Linked DNA regions of Homo sapiens: region 1 is linked to region 2. The links come from fine-mapping of genetic effects on gene expression. A gene starts in region 2. The other region holds a variant in brackets. All regions are shown on one strand. Distances are between the middles of the regions.

Region 1 (4,378 bases), 20 kb before region 2:
CTCAGGTAATCCACCCACCTCGGCCTCCCAAAGTGCTGGGATTACAGGCGTGAGCCACTGCACCCAGCCCAGAATTTTTTATAGAAACTGACATATTGTTTCTAAAGTCTACATGGAACAGCAAAGGAGCTAGAATAGCCAAAACAATTTTTTGAGAAAGAATAACGAAGTTGGAGGACTCCCAGTATCAAGACTTCAAGTCATCAGGAAAGTGTGGCATCAGGAAAAGGACACACAGCTCGAAAGACAGTAGACAGCCCCAAAACAGACACACTTCCACGGTCACCTAGTGACTGAGAAAGGTGTGAGGGCAATGCTAACATAAGCGTGCACCTGCCACACAGCCCAGCAACCCCATCCCAAGGGTTTACCTGAAGGAAACGAATCCGCCCATCACACACAGACCTGGACGACCTTACAGCAGCCTTACTGCCCATCACCAAAACCCAGAAACCTGTCAGTGTCCCTCAAGGAAGAATGGAGAGACGCACTGAGGGGCACAGCCACCTGGTGGCCAGCACTCAGGAGTACAAATGACCACACGACGGATGCGTCACACCACACCAAGCCAGAGGCCAGGTTCAAAGGCTACGTACCAGGTGACTCCACTAAGAGGACATTCAGGATCTGGCAAAACTACAGGGGCAGTTCAGTGCCCACCAGAGGATACAGGTGGGAGAGTTTGACCAACAAAGAAGAATGTTGGAATGTACAGAAATGTTCTGCATCTTGATTGCAGTGTTGGTTACATGACTGTGTATTTGTCAAAACTCACAGTACTGTACCAAAAAGTGAATTTAACTCTATGTAAATTTTAAAATAAGATGAAAAAAAAAAAAGAAAACACTTGGTCACTAATACCTAAATTTAATAGCCATGAACCACCAACCCACAGCTAGCAACAAAATACCAAGAGATCACCACAAGCTTTGTGAAAAGGAAATGATGCCAGTTGTTCCTTTTTTCCCTTTTTAATCAAGTAGCATACACGCGTGGCCACCACACCTCACAGGCATCAACCCGCCCCTCCTGACATGTCAACCCCACCTCCGGAGTCCACACAAGGAGGGGATACTACCCCACGCCCCAGGCTGTCCAGGGGACAGTCCAAGGACAGGTGTTGGCACCTCTGCACAGGCAGCTGGGAGGAGCAGGGGGCGGGGACACAACCTGAGAGCCTCGCTAGGGAGGACCAGCAAATAGAAACTTCCCAGGAACAGGAGATGGCCACCCCTGTCTAAACACCCCCACCACCCTACAACGGAGGGAAAAGCTACTTTCCCCTCTGACAGATTTTTAAATGGGGACATCACAGATGACATATATACATTTTTTTTTTTTTGAGACATATTCTCGCTCCGTCGCCCAGGCTGGAGTGCAGTGGCGCAATCTCAGCTCGCTGCAAGCTCCGCCTCCTGGGTTCACGCCATTCTCCTGCCTCAGCCTCCCGAGTAGCTGGGACTGCAGGCGCCCACCACCATGCCCGGCTAATTTTTTGTATGTTTTTAGTAGAGACGGGGTTTCACCGTGTTAGCCAGGATGGTCTCGATGTCCTTACCTCGTAATCTGCCCGCCTCGGCCTCCCAAAGTGCTGGGATTACAGGCGTGAGCCACCGCGCCCAGCCCACAGATGACATATATACAAATAAGAGGGTCAAAGAGCTTCTCAGGAGGGGCACATACAAAAGGCACCCTAAACCAAGGCATGGCATCATAAAAACACACGGTCTTCTCTCAGGTTCCCAGAACAGAGTTCTTAAAACCCTGAGGATTTCCTGAGTGCTAGGTTTGTCTTTTGTGATTCAAAACGACCCCACCACAGAGCTTATGCTGAGGAGGTGGCCAGGGTGGGCTCCCCGGAGAAATCAAATGTGTCAGTAGAGGGGAGGAACTTTCAGCCCTTCATGAAAAATAAGTTTCATAAGTAAAATTTTTCCTGAGTTCCTGAGTCCTAGCAAATTTCCAAGCACGAGGAGGGGTCCTGTGCCGGGTGGCAGGGGCCCCCATTTGCGGCTGGCACAGGAAGTGGGGGCAGTCCCACGAAACTGAGCTCCTTACCTGGGGAGATATGACGCTAGCTCCAGACAGGCTGCAGTGTGGGAGGATCGGAGTAGGGGT[G/A]TGGAAAAAGCCCCAGGCAGGGGAGTCTACAGCGGAAGCCACCACATGCCCCACCCCCATGTCCTTCTCCACCTGGGGAAACCTCTTCTTTCTCAGACTACTTTGCAATGTGGTTTCTGCAAAGCCTCTCCACTTCACAGAAGAACCCCAGAGTGGAGGCTGAGAACCTGACTCCCCGCTGGGCCCTCTCCTGGCACCAGAAACCACAGTGGTTCATGGACATTTCCACCACCCCATAGCAAAGAACAGGCAGGGCTTTTACTCAGACAGGAAGGCAGCGTGAGACCTACACAACTCAGGCACCATCGTCTGCAGCAACCCATACTAAGAGTTTTGGTGGGCCAGGGTCTACGCAAGCACTTCCCCAGAGGGCCTTGGAAGCCTCCCTGGGAGCCATATTTCCCACGGTTGGGTCACTCAGAAATAAAATCAAATGTGGCCAGGTGCAGTGGCTCACGCCTATAATCCCAGCACTTTGGGAGGCCAAGACGGACGGATCACGAGGTCAAGAGATAGAGACCATCCTGGCCAACACGGTGAAACCCCATCTCTACTAAAAATACAAAAATTAGCCGGGCGTGGTGGCGTGCACCTGTAGTCCCAACTACTCAGGAGGCTGAGGCAGAAGAATCGCTTGAACCCAGGAGGCGGAGGTTGCAGTAAGCAGAGATCGAACCACTGCACTCCAGCCTGGCAACAGAGCGAGACTCCATCTCAAAAAAAAAGGGACAAATGTGACTCTTCCTGGAACAGCTAGTACTTGGAGACTGTGCTTGATCCACATGTGGTCTGCAATCTGTCTGTAGCCTGTCCACGATGAAGCAGTTACATAAAGCACAGAAAACATGTAGAAACTTGAGAGCAAGAGACTAGGTGTGGTGGCTCACGCCTGTAATCCCATCATCCTGGGAGGCTGAGGCAGGAGGACTGCTTGAAGCCAGGAGTTCAAGAAACTTAAGAGCAAGTTAGTACTACCATAGACACTTAACCATATTTTATAACAGCACCAGTCCACAAAGATGAGAAAACTTTACAAAACCCATCCTAAAGTAGTTCTGGAATGGCCGAATAAGGACCTCCAAAATCTGCTCTCCTCCATTAAAGCAACAAGAACACTAGCAAAAATGGTCAGAATTAATTCTTTCAGAACCCTGGAAACTAAAGAAAGGCTTTCAACAATCTGAGGAGTGTTGATTCAAGAAAGACAACGAGTCTTGCTAAGAACAAGGAGTTGCTGGCATCTTAACTCGCCCCATTCCCAGCCCTTCTCCCCAGCTCAGTGGTAGCCACTCAATGGAGAACGGGTCCTCAAGGCCCCAGGCCCAGAGAACTGTCACTGTTGGGTTTACCTGGCCACCCTCTGGAAAAGCCTCATGGCAGGATTTGTCTTTATTTGATCTCACTCAGTGAAAACAGCCCAGTTCCTGAGGGCTTTTGTCAAAAGGAACCAGTGGCAACTGTTTCACCCTGCAGCTGCCAGAGGCTGGGGCACTAGTTGGGCAAACAAGAGGCTGGCCAAGAACCCAAGAAGGAAAAGCTGGAGATGTCCATGGGGCTCTGAAAGGCTCTAGCGTATGTCTGGAGATGACTGCGCACAGGCCCAGGAAAACCTCCCAGCTGACTGACCTGGAGACTCTGTGCAGGTGGCACACAAAGGCTAAGACAGTTGGCAGCCACCGGAGCACACCAGGTGAGCCCCACAGACCCACAGCTCTCATCACAGGCCGGGAGACTTACTGGCTCAGGGAATTTACGAAAATCCCTGTCCAAGCATCAGGAGACCACTCAGCTAAAGGGCCCGTGTATTCAGTGGCCACAAATCATAAAGAATACACACTTCACAGAATCAATCTAGGAAAGTCACTATTATGAGGTAAACTGTCACCCCCAAATTTACATGTTGAAGTCCCTCAGAATGCAACAGTATTTGGAGACAAGGTCTTTACAGAGGTCATCACATTACAATGAGGTCATTAGGGTAGGGCCTAATCCAGTGAGACAGGTGTCTCTATCAAATGGGCAATGTGGAGACCAGCATGCACACAGAGAGAAAGGCATGGACATGGAGATCGCTATCCTCCACCCACGGAGAAAGGCCTTCTCTTAGCCTTCTGACACCTTCATTTTGGACTTCTGGCTTCCAGAACTTTGAGACTATACATCTCTGTCATTTAAGCCTCCCAGTCTGTGACACTTTGTTACAGTATCCCTAGCAAACTGATACAGTCACAAATAGAGAGCAAGGACATATGACAAAAAC
Region 2 (4,378 bases):
GAGATCGACACCACCCTGGCTAACACATTGAAACCCCGTCTCTATTAAAAATACAAAAAATTAGCCGAGTGTGGTGGTGGGCGCCTATAGTCCCAGCTACTCGGGAGGCTGAGGCAGGAGAATGGCTTGAACCCAGGAGGCGAAGCTTACAGTGAGCGGGAGATCGCACCACTGCACTCCAGCCTGAGCAACAAAGCGAGACTCTGTCTCAAAAAAATAAAAAGAATCACTCTGTGGCCAGGCACAGTGGCTCACGCCTGTAATCCCAGCGCTCTGGAAGGCTGAGGCAGGCAGATCATTTGAGGCCAGGAGTTCGAGACCAGCCTGGCCAACATGGTGAAACCCCGTCTCTACTAAAAATACAAAAATCAGCCGGGCGTGGTGGTGGTGGACGCCTGCAGTCCCAGCTACTTGGGAGGCTGAGGCAGGAGAATCGCTTGAACCCGGGAGGCAGAAGTTGCAGTGAGCTGAGATCACGCCACTGCACTCCAGTCTGGGCGACAGAGCGAGATTCTGTCTCAAAAAAACAAAAAAAAAAAAAAAGAAAGAAAGAAGAATCACTCTGTGTCCAGAAAAACTATAGATGGTGGATGGGGAGTGAGGACCTAAGGTGACAGTAAAGAGAATTAGAGGCTCACCAGGTAGGCTGGGCCAGGATGTTAACTTGAAGGTGGTGAGAAATGGTCTGTGCTTAGAAATAGGTGAGCTGACGGGGCCTCCTTAGGACTGCATGAAGGTGTAAGAAAGAGAGGAATCAAAGGGACTTTAGATAGGCCAAGGAATGTTTTGGCATGGGTGAAGATTTGAGTTTGGTTTGGATATGGCTACTTGGCGCCAAAGTAACACATGGAGATATGGAAGAGGTGGCCAGAAACACCAGGCTGGAAATCAGAAGAGAGGCCAGGGCTGGAGCTGTGAAGATGTCAAGGAAAGCTGGCATTAAAGTCAGGAGGCTGGGTGACATCACAAAGGAGAGGGCTACAACAAGAGAGTCTAAGACTGGGCAAGCCAGCCAGAAGCACATTTCCTACCCCAAGGTCACGGTGAGACTACAAAACAACCCCTGGGAAGTGCTCCACACAGCGCCTGGCCGCAAAGGGCTCAAAGGGGAGCTCTCTGCCCGTAGGCCTCCCCACTGCTCCAGCTGACCAAACACCGCATGCAAACCCTGCCTTGCCAACAGGACTATCGGACAGGAACGGGCTCACGGCAAGCTCCCCTGGACCCTTGGCACGGGGAGAAAACCCGTACACTTGGACAGCACCCTTCCTCCTAGCCCACTTGCTGTGTTGGCTAACAGAGGCACTGGCTGTGACGGGCCAGCACCAGTGCCAGCGCCATGGAGGCTGCCTTTTGGTCAAGTCTCTCCCGCTGCAGCCTCCCGCCCAACCCAGCGGCAGTATGACCTCATCCGTTCCTTTTGTCATCCTCCAACAGGCCTCATATCCCGCACTTAGAGGCAACACTGGGTACCCCGGGCTGGCCATTCACTCCCTTTTGTGAGTGAAGGCCTGCAGCAGGGTTTGGGCCACTCCCACAGCTGGGAGTCTAGTCTGGCCAGGAAACAGTGGATCCTCGCCTGGTGGTTGGCCTCGAACAGTCGACAGCCAAAGACAGGACTGCCGTGCAGGAACAAGGTACATGCAAGCATGCAAAAAGGCAAATCAGACTCCTGCCACAAGAAACCCAAGTCCATCGGTTGACACCAGACAGGCATCACTGTCAACAGGTTGCCACCTTCCATTTATTTCCGCCATGCTCATTGTTACAATAAAACCGTATCCCAATTATCTACGTGACACTCAACCCGTGAGCATTCTGTGGACAAAAAGACTTAGGCGACTTCTTGGATTTCCCAAACTGTGTTAAAGCCGGCAGGGTCCCAGGCGAGCACTGGCCCTGTCCACACCTTTCCCGCCTGAAGGCGATGCTAGGCTTCGGGCCCTCCGGGAGAGGAGCCTCTTTACCCGGGCGGACAGCGACGAGAGTCGGCAACGCCTGGGCCCGGGGCCCGCCCCCCAGCCCCGGAGGCGTCCCCACCCCGCGCTCTCCACCGCCCGCGGCCATGTTGCCTCACAAAGGCCGGGCTCCGCGCCCCCGCCCCGCCCGCGGCCTCGGTCCCGGAGGGAGGCGGGAGGGAAGGGCGCGCCCTCGCGCAGGCCGCGGCGCCCGCCCAACCGCCCGCGGGCGCCCCTCGCGCCCCGCACCTACCTGAGGCGCCCGCGGGCTGCCCAAGCCGCCCGCAGCCAAACCACAGCCGGGAAAGCCTCACCGACCGACCGCCGCAGCCATCTGGAAAGCCTGTCCAGGCTCTCCGGTCGCCGGCACCCGCCTGCCGCGCCGGGCGAGCGGAGGGCGGGCCTTCGCGGCGTGCGGCCAATCCCCGCGCGCGGCCGCCCCGCATTGGGGGAGCCGCAGAGCGCGCTGCGGAGGCCGCCAATCGGCGGCGCGTAGCGCGTGTGTCCGCCGCGCGCGGCCCAATAGCGCGGCCGCGCGGGAGGGACCAGGCGCCCAGGCCGCGGTCGCGCTAACAGTCGCTGCCCAGGCGGGGCTCGCTGGACTGAGGGCGGCGGCCGCGAGGAGCGCCGGGAACGGGAAGCACCGGGAATGCCGGGAGCAGGGGAGCGCGGGAAGCTCGGGGAGCGCGGGGAATGCCGGGAACAGGGAGCGCGGAGTACGCCGGGAGCGGACACGCAGACGGGCCACCTTCGGTGGACACTGCAGAAGAGACCGTGCACACACAGGCGTTACACAACCCTGTTAAAAGCATCACTGTATCAGACATCATCATTTATAAAGAACGCGTGTGCTCAACTGTCTGGCGCTGTCCCCTTTGCTAATACAGGATTTCCAAAACAGGGAGGGTTCGGCCGGGCACGGTGGTTCGGCCGGGCACGGTGGCTTGCGCCTGTAATCCCAGAGTTTTGGGAGGTCGAGTCAGGAGGATTACTTGAGCCCAGGAGTTCGAGACCAGCCTGGCTAACATAGTGAGAGCCCAGTATCTACAAATTTTCTTTCTTTTTTTTTTTTTTTTTGAGGCGGTGTCTCGCTTTGTCTCCCAGGCTGGGGTGCAGTGGCGCGATCTCAGCTCACTGCAACCTTTGCCTCCCGGATTCAAGCGATTCTCCTGGCTCACCCACCCGAGTAACTGGGATTACAGGCGCCCACCACCACGCCCGGCTAATTTTTATATTTTTGGTAGAGACGGGGTTTCACCATGTTGGCCAGGCTGGTATCAAACTCCTGGCCTCAATTGATCTGCCCGCCTCGGCCTCCCAAAGTGCTGGGATTACAGGCATGAGCCACCGCGCCGGGCCCAAAATTATTTTTAATTAGCCGCGTGGTGGCGGGCGCCTGTGGTCCGAGCTACTCGGGAGGCTGAGGTGGAAGGATCACCTGAGTCCAGGAGTTCCAGGCTGCAGTGATCCGAGATAGCACCACTTTCACTCTAGCCTGGGCGGCAGAGTGAGACTCCGTCTCAAAAAAAAAAAAAAAAAAAAGGAAAACGAGGGTCTGAGTAAGTGAGGGTACAGCTCTTCCTTAGACTAGCTTTCCTGTCAATAAATGTGGAAGGAATAGTGGAAATAGAAAAATTTTCCACTGGGTAGCCACCCCAATAATAGCTGCTGTAGACGAAAATCTTGAGTGATAAAAATAGTGGGCCGGGCCCTGTGGCTCACGCCTGTAACCCCAGTACTTTGGGAGGCCGAAGCAGGCGGATCACCTGAGCTCAAGAGTTCCACACCAGCTTGGGCAACGTGGCGAAACCTTATCTCTACTGAAAATACAAAAAGTAGCCAGGCGTGGTAGCAGGCACCTGTAATCCCAGCTACTCGGGAGGCTGAGGCAGGAGAATCGCTTGAACCCGGGAGGTGGAGGTTGCAATGATCTGAGATCGGGCCACTGCACTCCAACCTGGGTGACAGAACGAGACCGTCTCCAGAAAAAATAGTGAGCAAGGCCAGGCACAGTGGCTCATGCGTGTAATCCCAGCACTTTGGGAGGCCGAGGCGGGCGGATCACTTGAGGTTAGGAGTTCGAGACCAGCCTGACCAACATGGTGAAACCCTGTCTCTACTATAAATACAAAAAAAAATAGCAGGGCTTGGTGGCAGGTGCCTGTTGTCCCAGCTACGGAGGCTGAAGCTGGAGAATTGCTTGAACCTGGGAGGCAGGAGTTGCAGTGAGCCAAGATCCAGCCACTGCACTCCAGCATGGGCAACAGAACGAGACTCGGTCCCCGGCCCCCAACCCCCTACAAAAAAATTAGGCCAGGCACAGTGGCTTACGCCTGTAATCCCAGCACTTTGGGAGGCCGAGGCGGGTGGGTCACGAGGTCAAGAGATCAAGACCATCCTGGCCAAGATGGTGAAACCTC

What was found. PIP is the estimated chance that this variant, and not a neighbour inherited with it, causes the effect. A credible set is the group of variants that fine-mapping cannot tell apart.
Region 1: its variant is the best candidate, but not a certain one, in a credible set for the expression of DGCR8 in whole blood (TOPMed, PIP 0.60).

Annotation. Positions count from the first base shown.
Region 1 is chr22:20,098,542-20,102,919 of GRCh38, reverse strand. All of the region lies in intron 9 of DGCR8 (DGCR8 microprocessor complex subunit), which reads right to left. Among named protein-coding and RNA genes, the nearest start is that of MIR6816, 14 kb to the left of the region's middle. The variant G/A (reference allele first, on the strand shown) is at 2,119.
Region 2 is chr22:20,078,217-20,082,594 of GRCh38, reverse strand. DGCR8 (DGCR8 microprocessor complex subunit) reads right to left here and starts at 2,354. Exons shown (of 14, transcript NM_022720.7): 1 at 2,212-2,354. RefSeq lists an enhancer at 1,536-1,595 and a silencer at 1,856-2,475.